2 separate regions of the Homo sapiens genome follow, and region 2 is reported to be linked to region 1. The links are microRNA targets in miRTarBase. Many come from high-throughput screens and were not tested one by one. Region 1 holds a microRNA gene; the other region holds the end of a gene's coding sequence.

Evidence for each region. The annotated mature microRNA hsa-miR-580-3p reads UUGAGAAUGAUGAAUCAUUAGG and lies in region 1 at 2,776-2,797, opposite strand. An mRNA with a match to its seed (bases 2 to 7 or 8) in the 3' UTR can be bound and repressed. Matches are read on the target gene's strand: a 7mer-m8 pairs with bases 2 to 8, a 7mer-A1 pairs with bases 2 to 7 and ends in A, and an 8mer does both.
Region 2: the mRNA of AK2 is a reported target of hsa-miR-580-3p. Seed matches in the 3' UTR shown: 8mer at 3,874-3,881.

Annotation. Positions count from the first base shown.
Region 1 is chr5:36,145,132-36,152,256 of GRCh38, forward strand. It overlaps MIR580 (microRNA 580), which reads right to left and starts at 2,857; the gene lies at 2,761-2,857. It overlaps LMBRD2 (LMBR1 domain containing 2), which reads right to left and starts at 6,756. Exons shown (of 18, transcript NM_001007527.2): 1 at 6,425-6,756. It overlaps SKP2 (S-phase kinase associated protein 2), which reads left to right and starts at 6,980. Exons shown (of 10, transcript NM_005983.4): 1 at 6,980-7,125. RefSeq lists silencers at 6,027-6,086, 6,687-6,826 and enhancers at 6,040-7,023, 7,097-7,125.
Region 2 is chr1:33,006,798-33,013,922 of GRCh38, reverse strand. AK2 (adenylate kinase 2) reads left to right here. Exons shown (of 6, transcript NM_001625.4): 6 at 521-5,937. The coding sequence ends at 742. Among named protein-coding and RNA genes, the nearest start is that of AK2, 27 kb to the left of the region's middle.

The DNA of each region.
Region 1 (7,125 bases):
TCTGATGTAGTTAGTACCTGGCATACAGTAGTATCAAGAAATATTTGTTGAAATAATAAAAAATACTGTGTAGTTTAGTACATACACTATTTTTCTATTACTGACGACTTCAAAGGCAATGTAAAACTCGTGTAATGGTAAACTGATTTAACAAATACTTATTACAACTCAAAAGGCTTAAAACTCTGAACATTACCAAATACTACTCAAATTTTCAAATTTCATATTCTATGAAACAACTTATACCACAACAAAGTCAAATCTTATGTTTTAAAAAATAGACAAGGTTTTGCCATGTTGCCTGGGCTGGTCTCGAACTCCTGAGCTCAAGTGATCCACCTGCCTCAGCTCCCAAAGTGCTGCAATTACAGGCATGCGCCACAGCGCCCAGCCAAATCTTATTTTTAAGCTAAGCATAGATTAAGTAGTTGGCTGAAAGCTCAATGCAGAATGTGCTGATAACAAAACCATCTTCGAGATCTAGGGTTTTTTTTCTTTAAAAAAACCCAATTGATGTGAGTTTAAATATAACATAATTAACTGAAAATCCTTTTATGACTTGAACTAGACCTGAAATTGTCCAGTGCAAGGAATATGACAATCATACAAAAAAAAGACTAAATATTAGAGATTACCAAAGAAATGCTAAATAAAGCATGGCAGAGCCAAATGATGAAATATTATTGTAGTATAAGAAATAATGTTTGTTAAGATTATTTAATAACATCAGAAAATTACCCTAACAGCAATTGAAAATTTGGCACATATTTTTACATAAGCATAAAAAAGAGTAAGGTAACAATGAAATATATTAAAACATCAATAGTCTTTAGGTGGTAAGATTATGGGCATAATAAGCAAACAACAAAATCAGTTATAAACCTGACACTAGCTATTAATTTTTTTACTATGGCACTCTGTTTTTCAGTCTGATTCATAGTCAGCACTTTAAAGGGTTGTAGATGAAGAAATAGAATTATGGATCCTTTATTCTAGTAATAAATGATTTGGTTACATACCTTCCCACACTTCATGTGTTAGTATCTTACCACTGCTGTAACAAATTACTACAAACTTAGTGACTTTAAACAACATCCATTTAGTATTAATATCTTATAGCTTCTGTAGGTCAGAAGTTCAAACATAGCATAGTTCAACTTAGTTCTCTGCTTAGGGTCACACAAGTTTAAAATCAAGGTGTCAGCAGGTTTGCATCTTTCTCTGAAGAAGAATCCATTTCTAATCTCATTCAGGCTACTGGCAGGGTCTCACACTGTCGCCCAGGCCGGAGGGCAGTGGCATGATCATGGCTCAACATAACCTTGAGCTCCTGGGCTCAACTGATCCTCCCACCTCAGCTTCCAGATAGCTAGGACTATAGGTGCACACCACCACGCCTGGCTAATTTTAAAAAAAAATTTTTTTTGTAGAGACAGGGTCTTGCTATGTTGCCCAGGCTGGACTCAAATACCTGGCTGCAAGTGATCCTCTCACCTTGGCCTCCCAAAGCACTGAGATTTCAGGCATGATCCACCTAGCCAAGCCAAAACTCAGTTCTTTATGGTTATAGGACTGAGATCCCTGTTCCCCTGCAAACTGACAGCTGGCATTTAACCTTAGCTCTAGAGGCCTCTCCCCAGTCTTTGCATGTGGCTCTGTATATGTTTTTAAATTGTATATATTTAAAGTGCACAACAGTGATGTTTTGATATACTGTACATATACAGTGAAATAATCACCATAGTCAAACAAATTAACATATCTATCTCCTCACTCACTTCTCTCTCTGCGTGTGTGTGTGTGTGTGTGAGTGTGTGTGTGTGTGTGTGTGTGTGTGTGTGTGTGTGTGTCTGTGGTCCTGAATATTTTAGAAGCAGCAATGGCTTGTCAAATTCTTCTCACACTTGAAATTTGTTTTACAGGGCTTATCTGATTACACTGGGCCTGCCTGAATAATTTCATCATTTTTACTGGTTCCAGAGATAAGAGCATAGACATTCTTAGGGGTTTATTATTCTGTTTACCATACCATCTATTTCTGTTGAGGCCGAACTATATTGCCTTATTATGACACAGATTAGGACCAGTGATCCCATGAAACTGGAGATAAAAATTGGGGTTTTCCTAACTTGAGAAAATAATAGTTTCAAAGTCCATATCTTTAACCTTGTGCCAACATTCAAGTGATGAGTTGCAAGGTTTAGGGAAGAAGGAGAAGAAAGGGGATGATAATGATGATAATGATGATGATGGTGATACTAAAATGGGGAGGTAAATAAAAATTCAGTTCCATGTGATTAAGCACCACAGTAGCAAAACTTGATTATACTCGAAATCAAAATGGCAATTCATTAAAACTACCAGATTTTAGTGCCCGATGTGTGGGCATATCGTACCCTTCAAAACACCAGTTCTGAAAGTCTTAAACATTTAAAATCCAATTCAATCTTTTTCCAATCATCAAAATATTATTCAATATTACTTTCAAATGCCTTTATAATGGTTTCACAATTAGCGTGTTAATGTTACTGACTAATGTTACTGACTAAAGTACTGTTTCCTGAGTACTTTACGGCTGATAATAGTTTTTCAGGCCAAATACCCTTTGATGGAACTTCAGAGGTTAAGATAATTTTGTAGTTTGAAGAATTCCAAATGTTTTGAGAGAGAGAGAGAGAGAATGGGTACCAAGTGATCAGAACACAAACAAAACACTGACAACAATTTTGTCAAAACCAAAGATTCTGAAACTGAATGAAAAATTTCTGACCGGAACCTAATGATTCATCATTCTCAAATACTGTTAACTTAAATATCTGAGTCTGATGAATCATTAGGTTCCAATTGGAAATTTTATCTAACTTCACATATCTGTATTTTTACTCAGATATGTGCAAAATAATAAAAACCAGGAGACAACTCAAAATCCTAATTATGAAAAATCAAAAGAACCAGAATTAGAAGTGAATGATTAAGTCAACAATTTTCCACCAATAATTAAATTTAAATCTTCCAAACATAATCGTTATTCACATATTTAAAGATTTCAGGTATGAGAGAGTTCAGTTTAGGACACAGACTACTGCAAGAGACTATTACTCCCACTCGAAAAATGAAAAAAAAAAAAAAACCATCATAATATTTTTTAAAGGTACCTAAGAGCTGAGTTGGCGAACCAACCAGGTAACCTGAATTCCAAAATGTGACAAGCCCCTGAGGACAGTGGCATACTGTCCTGCTTTACCTTTTGCAAGGCATGAAGAGAAGAGGTAGCAATCATGTAAGCATATAAGAAAAAAGAACTAAAATTTTACTGAATTCTTAAAGATTTCATACATAGAAATTGCAAGACATTTTGATAGAGAATAATCTGTAAAGTCCTTCCTAATAATAAAATAATTTCAAAAAACGAATAGCTAACATTTAGAATGTGTTCACTAAATTTTAAGCATTGTATTAATACTAGTACCTGCCAAGCTTTATCAAATTAGACCTCACAACCTAGTAAGAAAGGGCTGTTCGTTTCCTTGCTTAACAGAAAAAAAACAGTGCAGAGAGGTTAAGTAACTTGTCCAAGTTAACAGAGCTGGTGAATGGTAAAGCTGGGATTCAAATAGAGGCATCTTTACTACAGAGCCTGGATCATAATTACATGTCTCTTCTCTAATCTAGACATAGTTTCTTAATGCAATTTAAATTGCTTAATGATTTATTTTGTTCAGTCTTCACAGGGAACAAATTAGAAACTTTCTCCCATTTCTTTTAGATATATCAGGACAGAATGCTTAGTCATGTTTAATAAAGAATTTAACGCAAACTTTTTACATTACAGATTATACTACTATTACTTGATTTAAGGGTAATATATGACTGTACTCTACATGGGAAAAGTGGAAAACATAGAGTAAATTAGAATCCGTTTGTTCTTGCCCCAAGCTGCCTATCTTAGAGCATTAAATTACAATGAATTAAAGATCTACTTAGTTCCAAGCACCATTCATTCATTTAGCAAATATTTACTGAACGCCTACTATATGGTGAGCTCTGTTCAAGGGGCTGGAGATAGAAAAATCCAAGCAAAGTCCCTGCCCTTAAAAAGTCTAGTGGGAAGAAACAGGCAATTAAAAAAAATACATTAGGGGGTGATAAGGGTTATGTAAACAGGTAGCTGCCACCACCACAGAGACTATCAGTTCTGGAAATACATTATTCAAGATTAGTTTGGCTACACATAACAGAAAAGTCCAATATAGTACAGACTTATACAATGCAGAATTTATTTCTCGTGTAAGTCTTGAGATAGGTGGTTATGGCAAGTTAGCAGATTATCAGAGGCCCAGGCCCCTTCTATAGTCCACATCCTTAGCAGGTGGCTTTAATCCTTATGTTCCAGGACAGATGCTGGAACTCCAGGAATCCTATCATCATCTAGACAGCAGGATGGAGAAACAAAGAAGGGTGGACCGTCTTCCTTTTAAAGAGATGTAAGAATCGGCTGGGCACGGAGGCTCACGCCTGTAATCTCAGCACTTTAGGAGGCTGAGGTGGGTGGATCATCTGAGGTCGGGAGTTCGAGACCAGCCTGACCAACATGCAGAAACCCCGTCTCCACTAAAAATACAAAATTAGCCAGGCGTGGTGGCGCATGCCTGTAATCCCAGCTACTCAGGAAGGCTGAGGCAGGGGAATTGCTTGAACATGGGAGGTGGAGGTTATGGTGAGCCGAGATTGCGCCATTGCACTCCAGCCTGGGCAATAAGAGTGAAATTTCTTCTCAAAAAATAAAAATAAAATTAATCAGAAAAAATAAGATACATCAGTAGCAATCACAATGCAGTTCTTTATGACCAGATAGCAACCTCTATGTACCTACTAATCTCGTCTTCAATGGACACAATTCCTTACGTTAAAAAGAATCTAATGTACCAATTTAAACTTGCATTTATTATATTAAGGCAATAGTCATGATTAGAAGGAAGGCAAAAAAAAATTATTCCCATATTAGGAAGATGAAGTATGTCTGTTACCGGGGCAAACTATCAAACTGAATTTCAAAACTGACAGGCTCTCCCTGAAGTCCTAGAGAGGATCTTGTGTTCACTAATTCAGATGTTGCAAGTATTCTAGTTCCCAGGTAACTCCTAGTAAAACCAAGACTGAACAAAGATATTTCTCATCTTTAAATTTAGAATCATCTCATCGATTAAACCTTCCTATCTATGAGATCTATATCTGAAGTGGGCTCTCCCAATTATTTTACATCTCAAAACTGTTTATTCTCATTATGGCATCTTAAATATTTTTGTTTATTCTTTCTCCTCCATTAGCTTACAGGCTCTCTCTGTTTTGTTCCCTTTCCTGAAGGAAACTATAATTTTTTGTGTCAAAAATATTTTCTCCTATGAGTTGCAATCTTCAGGGAAAGGACGTAGCTTCAAACAAAGGCAAATGCTTTCTCCTTAGCCAAAGTAACATAAAGGTCACTTTCTGTAAAACATCAGGATATTGCATTTTAAAATGCTTTCCATATAACATTAGTTTGATGAACGGCTTAGCCTAGGATTCTGCACCTAGTTCCAATCAAAACCAAGTTGTGAACAGATCCCTTCTTTACACCAATCTCATCTTTCAAGAACGAGCTAAAGGTTCATGAATTCCTTCCTCAAGAGGCAGTTACTTTTCAAGCTAAGGACCAAGCTTGAAACAAGCATATACCTGCACAAGGGAGGTTTAATTTCACTACAGAGCGAATCATTTTTTCAAGGAAACCAGAGGGTGTGTCATACAGCATCACTGAATATTCTAATATGCGATGAAGCTGTTATGCTTCCTTATGAACTTTATAAATCTTCATTTTTATGAGGCTTAGAATTCATCCCCCTTCCCTCTTCCACTGTTTTCCCGGGGTCACAGTTGTAGTATAGTTTGCCCAATGGATTTCGCATGGTCATTGTACCTGGAATATGTCACGCTCCCTACTCTTACTGCCCCCAAACTCTTCTCAGCAGAGATAGGCTGAAAGCAGCTCGCTTTTAGGCGGCGACGCAAACACACGTAGCCAGCTGAGCGACAGCAAGCAACCAAATGGCTTTGCTGGAGGCCCCCTGCGTGCACGGGTAAAGCTCGTTGCAAAATACAGTCCTTTCATTTATTCCCATGTTGCTATTTATGAGACCTGTCAAGGCTGCAAGGGCATGCGCAGCCTTCCCACCACACAGGACCCGCTGGGGTCTCCGGCTCCCCTAAAATTAAACCATTGTCTCTCGTTCCAACGGCGTGTTTAGCTGTTGTGCGTTATTTTACAGATAAAGGAAGGATCCCGTCCACAGACCCAATTCTTAGGGCCGCCTTCTCCCCGACGGAGGAAGAAGCTTCCTGGCAAAAGGACGAACAGGTGCGACGCCAGCAGTTCGCAGCCTCTCACCTGGCCGGCGGGCTGGGCTACTGTCACCACTCAGCAGCCAAGGACTTGGGCCCCGCAGCGGCGGCCACTCGGGGTCTGCCGGGTCCCCTCTCTTTCCGCCTGCTCTCGGCCCCGGACCCCAGACTCAAAAGCGCCTCACGCGTTCCGCCTTAGGCTCACCGTCCGATCTCGCCAGACAGCGTCTGGACGGGACCGGGAAACGGCGGCCGCCACAGCTGTCCAGGTTCTGGGATCCACGCTCAGAGACGACAGCGCTGGCGATCACCAGAAGGCCTGCGGGCTCCCGAGAAAGGAAAATCCGTCTACAGTCCAGCGGCTGACATTTCCCAGTCAGCCGTAGCGCCGCCCGCTTCCGCCTCCCCGCCTACCCCGTGGGCCGACCAGTCCCGCTCCCGCGGGGGGTTGTGGGTATCTCGAAGGCGGGTAAAGCTGCAAGGGAAGGAAGTAAGGGCGAGCCCGTCGGACTACGAAGCGGGACGGAAACTACAATTCCCAGCAGGCCTTGGGCCTCAGTGCGGCCGCGAAGCAGAGCGGGCTGTAGAGCCTTGCGCGCGCAGTGGGGATGGAACGTTGCTAGGCTTAGCGGGTCTGGCTGCTGGGGGCCCGAGCAGCACGCTCGGAGCCGCCGCGCGCCAAAGCGGGAATCTGGGAGGCGAGCAGCTCTGCAGTTAATGCACGTATTTTAAACTCCCGGGCCTGCG
Region 2 (7,125 bases), not on the chromosome of region 1:
GCAACTTAGTCACATTTTGCAAAGTTGCTAATTCTACCATTGAAAGTTCTTATTTTACTTGCCACTTTTAGAATGTTGATGGGTGACACTCTAGTAAATACACTAAATATTTAAGCAACTAAGATTACAATTGCTAATGTATCTTTGATTTTGATGTATTCTGGTCTTAGGGGCCTTTTTGACTTCCTTACTTTTGACCCTAGAAGTGTTTATCTTGGAAGCTGAATCGCCTGAGCACAAAGATGAGAAAGTCATTGCCTATCTTCCCCTCATGAGCCCCTTTCCTCACAGTTGGTGTTTCTGACAAACTCTCTGACTTCTGTTCACCAGCTGCTCTGCTCCTGGGAGTAGCAAAGTTCTTCACTGGAGAGGGTCTGGATTGCCTGTCTTTGTCTCTGATGGGCTTTGGGAACAGACAGCATCCTGGGCAGAATGGTCCCATCTCAAATCTGCATCTGGCATGGAATAAGAAAACCTTGCTAACAGTCCCAGCCTTTCATTGCTGTCTTCCTGTTCTCAGATCACCGGGGAACCCTTGATCCGTCGATCAGATGATAATGAAAAGGCCTTGAAAATCCGCCTGCAAGCCTACCACACTCAAACCACCCCACTCATAGAGTACTACAGGAAACGGGGGATCCACTCCGCCATCGATGCATCCCAGACCCCCGATGTCGTGTTCGCAAGCATCCTAGCAGCCTTCTCCAAAGCCACATGTAAAGACTTGGTTATGTTTATCTAATGTTGGGTCCAAGAAGGAATTTCTTTCCATCCCTGTGAGGCAATGGGTGGGAATGATAGGACAGGCAAAGAGAAGCTTCCTCAGGCTAGCAAAAATATCATTTGATGTATTGATTAAAAAAGCACTTGCTTGATGTATCTTTGGCGTGTGTGCTACTCTCATCTGTGTGTATGTGTGTTGTGTGTGTGTGTGTGTGCATGCACATATGTGTTCACTCTGCTACTTTGTAAGTTTTAGGCTAGGTTGCTTTACCAGCTGTTTACTTCTTTTTTGTTGTTGTTTTGAGACAAGGTTTCGCTCTGCCACCCTGGCTGGAGTGCAGTGGCGTGATCTTGGCTCACGGCAACCTCTGCCTCCTGGGGCTCAAGCAATTATCCCACCTCAGCCTCCTGAGCAGCTGGGACTACAGGTGCATGCCACAACACCTGGCTGATATTTGTATTTTTTGTAGAGACAGGATTTTGCCAAGTTGCCCAGGCTGGTCTTGAACTCCTAGGCTTAAGCAATCCACCCACCTTGGCCTCCTGAAGTGCCAGGATCACAGACGTGAGCCACTACACCCAGCCCAGCTGTTTACTTCTTTAACCATACTTTTGATTTTATTTTTTGACCAAAATGAACTAACCCAGGTAATCTTCCAGGGACCGCAATTCCAGAACCTCATAGTATTTCTTCCATTTCCAGCAGCTGATTAGAAGTCCAGGATCATGTGAAGTCAGGCAGGGTCACAGTTCCTGATGGCACATTATGGACAGAGAATTCCATTTTGTTTTCTAACCCATGATGAAAACCCACGTGAGTCAGTGTGTGAACAGGGATCATTAATTTTTTCCCCCTAGGTGGAAGGAAAAAGGCACTTACTTTGCAGGTTACAGAAATTACTGGGAGAGGATATCGTCATAAAAAGAGCCAGGCCAAATTGGAATATTTTTGTGATCTGCATCATGATGCTGAAAATAGCAATTATTTGGGAATTGGGTTTGAAAACTGAATTGTTGCCAGAGAATTAAACCAGGTGAAAGGTCCTTTTGAATTCAGATTGTCTTCTGAACATCCAGGCTGATCATCTGAGAGCAGTCAAATCTACTTCCCCAAAAAGAGACCAGGGTAGGTTTATTTGCTTTTATTTTTAATGTTTGCCTGTGTTTCCAAGTGTGAACAAAACAGTGTGTGATCTATTCTTGGATTCATTTTGATCAGTATTTATTCAAACCCAGTCTCTCTCCAGGACATAAAACTGAAATCAGATATGTTCTTTTTAAGCCCAAACCCTCTCCTTTCTAGATCCAACCCTTCACCCCTAATTTTATGATGGCTATAGCCATGGACTTCCCCAAGAAAAGATCACCCAGAAATAAGACCACCTGTGACAGTTACCAGCTTTTATTCATAACCTTAGCTTCCCAACTATTGAGCATTTTCTAAGGTCCCTGCTGTCTTTTGGTCTCTGGTTTGATTTGTGGCAAACAGATGAAGTAACAGACTGCTATGAAGGACCACAAAAACGGCAGCCTCTGGAAAAACCATTAGAAAGTCAGTGGCAGATCCAGTAAATAATATCGCCAGCCTCAGCATAATCTGCTGCTGACTCGATTCAGTGGACTCTAAAGTGCCCAGCCTCCTGACCTGAGCTCTCCTGCCATCTGTGAGACTACCAGAGGTCTTATCTGCTGTCCACATGGCAACTGGGCATGAGTACCTGGCCACCTTGCTTCCCTCTTTGCCTGGTCCAAGTGAGTGTCTGCTGCCTCTGTCCTGCCTTGTTTTCCTGGCTCTAAACCAACTCCACCCACTCTTAATGGAAACTCAGTCTGGCTTTGTGTGTTTCTGGGAAGCACATGACTTCTGGGAATGGGCAAGGAAGAGGAGTGAAACAAAAACTGTCAGCTATGTGTGCCTGGTCTGGGATCCTTCTCTGGGTGACAGTGGCATCATGAATCTTAGAATCAGCTCCCCTTTAACTAGGGACAATTGTAAGCACTTGGCCTCAAAGTTGAGGTTCTTGAATGTTTGCTAATTTTATGTGCATGATCCTTGCCCAAATATTTGTCATCCGTCCACATAGATTCACGTGTGCATACAACATGTACAAGTAATATTTGGGCTGCCCATAAGAACTGGAAGATTCATAGGGAATGCATATACCCTTCTCAGTATGGTTAGGATTCTGTTTTTGCTTCATTTAATTCCAGAGTTCCTCAGCCTCAGCAGGTTCTGCTTTTACCTGTCACAGAAATGTCCAGTGTTTAATGCATTTGGTTGCTGGGGCTTACATGCCAGCCTCCTCTGATATGTACTTGGTTTTTAAAAACCCATTTTGTTCTCTCTTGTTTCCTCTCTATTTCAGCCTAGTATCAGAAGGCCAGGCGAGACTGCAACACTGCTCATCACCCCGCGGCGTGATCCCTGCTCTTAGGTGCTGGGCAGAGGGGAAGGGTGGTCAGGGTGAGGATGGTGAGGGAGGGCTGGTGAGGGGCTCAGAGGAATACTTGGAACAACAGCAGTGTTATTGTAGTGTGGCAGTTTCTTTTATACATAGGTGAGAGTTTTTAAAGTGTAAGGGAAAAATTAATTTTTTAAAAAACACCATGCTTGGAGGGTGGGGGTAGAAATAGACACAATATTATTTCTAAGGAATCGGGTTTTCATTTACTCTGGACTGGTGAAAATATTTTTTAAAGCCAGTGCTCTAAGACCTCAGCTTTTATCTCAGAACCCCATGGGTTCCAGACCAAGAGTACAGGAAATCAAATTGTTGTCCTGTCTGTCTATAGCTTGGAACAGGGAGCTTTGATTACTGACTCCGGTTCCACACACTGTAAGATCAAAAAACCATCTCCACATTTGAAAGAGATGTAAGGTGTATTCATAGGGATGGTGGCTCAACAAATCAAGCAAACTGGAATCAAGGGGAGGGGGAAGGGAATGAAATGGAAAGGGAGGCTGATTCCCTTCCCCTGACTTACCACTAATTTACTAGGCTACCTACTTTCATGAGTAACCTCTCACAGCTACCCAGCACATGCCACAATCCTATGCTCTTGCCTTCTTTTATCTGCACTGTGTGAAGGGACTCTTTTAAATAAATGAGCAAGTGTCCTAAGCTATGTCATCCAAAGATTGTCCTTTCCATTCTCAAATCCTGTGACTGGGATCACTCAACAGCACTGTGATGTATTATTTTCAATGAGGTGCCTTTCTTAACTGACCAAATGCTGCCTTGTTTGGCCCCTAAATCAATAAAATATGTTAAAATTTGTATCCCCTGTTGTGGCATTTTTTTTAGATAATCTAAGCTAGAAAAATGACATTGAATTCTGGACCTGGCTGGAAGGAAAAGAAGCCCTTTCTTGTCGCTGGCAGCTGTGTGGTAGGGAGGTCCAAGTATGTGCATATGAGATAAGCCTGCAACCTCTTGACCTTCAGCTCCTATGCAGGCTTCTCTTGAGCCCAGAGACAAGGCAGCTTGGTCTAGTGGAGATAGCACTGTGCTTGGAGTTCAGGGGACCTAGGACAAATCCCAGCCAGTTAGTTATTCACTGTGCTCCTGTTTCCTCAGCTGAAAAAGGAAGTTGGTTATGCCACCTTCTTGGCCTTAATGGCATTAAATGAAATTTATAGGAAGAAGGTTTTTGCTCAGTACCTGGCATGCAACAGACATTGGATAAATGTTAGTTGGATCCAGATATACACAGAAAGATATCTGCTTCCTGCCAGGCTGGATAACTGTTGAATGGACACTTGTCCATAGTCTAGAAAGCCAGTGCTTCTAATCCTTAAGCCAGATCTTTGACTACCTTTTCAGTTGCTTCTTTAACACTCTTTGTTGCTTCTCTGTGTGTCCTAGTTTAAATTCATTTCCTCTCCAGCAAAAGTGAGCTTAAATAATTTCTCCAAACTAAAGCTCTCATGTTTTTGGAAGGGCTGCCTTTGCAAGTGAGGTTTCTGAGAAATGACTGTTGTTCCCAAAACAAGAGGGAGCTGGGCTGGAAGCACCACTATTCTTCTTTAGGCATCTTGTTACAGAGAGAGGCAGGGTCTTCACTGACATATTAAATCCTGTTCCCTGAACCAGCCCCTCCCTCTTCTGCTCCACTTCCTCACCTGTGCAGAGTCATTTTCAGGTGTTAGCCTTACTGATTTGCACTGATCTGTTTGTTCCCTGAGCTTTTTAAATACCCTGTGAAAATTTTCTTTCCTCCCTTGGTCATCATGCATCTAATTGTGGGGAAATGTTTGTCAAACCAACCTGCAAAGCAGCATGGTGTAGTTGAGAAGAATAAACAGAGAAGACTGGGTGAGCTATTGTTTGTTTGCTTCTTTGGGCCTGGGTTTCCTCATCTAATCTGCAAACCAAGAATGCAGACTAGTCCTACCACTCCCGGAAGACTGACGTTGTGCCAGGTATTATGCAAAGGCTTCATGTAACCCTCGACTTCACGTAACCCTCACACAGCACCCTGTGGAGTCAGAACTGTCCTTCACTTTTATAGGTGAGGAAACCAGACTCAGAGAGGTGAAGTGGCATTCCTGAGGTCATGCATAAGAGGCAGTCAGGACTGAAACACAGTCTCTAACACTTATCCGTCCCCTTGATCTTGTTGCTGAAGTGATTTAATTACTTGCGTAGCTCTGCACACAGGAAGGGCTGCTCTGAATAAGAGCTCTTTTCCATGGACACTCAGCGCTGCCGGAACTGATTTTGAAGAAGTCACTGCCGGCTCTGAGGGCCTAGGGTATGTGTCTTAGGATCTCCTGTGTGCACAAAGTGTCACTGACAGAACACAGCAGGATGGAGAGCAGCCTCCTCAGAAGCCTCACAAGTCTTTCCTCAGATGAAGACAGAGCAACGAGTCAGAAGACAGATTTCAACAGCGACTTCACCATGCGACCTTGGACAAGTTATCTCACCTCATCAGTAGAATAGGAATGATCCCTACCCCTCAAAGGTGCTGATGACACTAGTGACCAAGATACTCATGTGGGTTGGACTGCCCAGGACACAGCAGATGCTTAGTAAACACAGATGGAATTCAGAGGGAAAATGTAGGCATTGAAGAAAGTTGTCTTACTGACCATCCGGAACCAGGCTAAGGATCCCCTAGAAATCATAGACCTCTGAAATTATATGCAGAATTCTTTATGTGTTTTCATAATTAATAATAGTCTAACATATTAAATTCTTAGCTGTGTGAGAGGTTCTGCATGCATTATCTCATTTATTCTCCTCGATAACCCTGTGGAGGTAAGTATTGCTATTATCTCTATGGTATGTCTGTAGACTTTGAGATTCAGACATCTGATAATGGCAGAACCAGAGCCTGAGTCCAAGTCTGGCTCCACACCCCAGCCTCTTAACACTGTGCCAATTGCTTTGACACTTTGCTGGGGAGAGATGAAATGATCTCAAAGGCACTCATGATACAGAAAAGGCTATGAGCCATGGATCCAAACAAAAGGAGAAACTCAAGTAGGTTTGCTCTGTTACAGTGAAGGACCTGCCACAGGTAAGACCTTTTTCTATTTTGCCATCCTCCGTTGTTTCCTTATTGTTGGTACTAAAGTTCCAATGTGCTGGATTTGCATAGCTCCTGGAATCACCCGTATTCCAGAAAGGCTGGAGGGGTGAGTTATGTTGGGGGAAGGAGCCGGTTCCCATCTCTTGTCCTCCACGATTATCTCCTGGTTCTGGATAAGGTGGCCAGGAGAGGGTGTGTATGTAGGCTGTTGAGTCACAGGCAGCCGTCTCAGATTGCAGCTCTGTGTAGCTGATGGTGTTGCATTATTCATAACTCCAGGGGGAGCAGTGTGCTTCTGATGTTTTGGGAATGCAGCAGCTTTGGGTTTAGAGTCATCCATGGCAGTGTGATGATGAGCTGCTCTCACAGAGGGCCCCTTCCAGGTGCCCAGTCCAGATTGAGGTGCCCCCAGCAGAAAACAGGTGGAAATGGAAAGACAGAGCATCAGAGGGCAAGACAACATGGGCCTAGATCCTGTGCAGGTAGCCCTCAAGCCAATAAGCCAAACAGATCTGCACTTTGGGGGTAAAGTTGCTATGGAGCAAATAATTTGATTGTGTGGTGTTCTGTAAGGGTTTTGCAGACAAATTCCTCTGAGCTTAGCTAGGAGTTCATTATGCTTCCTGTTTAGCTGGTCTTCTTTCTTCTACTAAATAAGAAATGCTTCATTTTTGGCCGAGCACGGTGGCTCATGCCTGTAATCTCAGCACTTTGGGAGGCCGGGGCATGCGGATCACAAGGTCAGGAGTTTGAGACCAGCCTGGCCAACGTGGTGAAACCCCGTCTCTACTAAAGATACAAAAAAATCAGCTGGGCATGGTGGCGCCCACCTGTAATCGCAACTATTTGGGAGTTCGAGGCAGG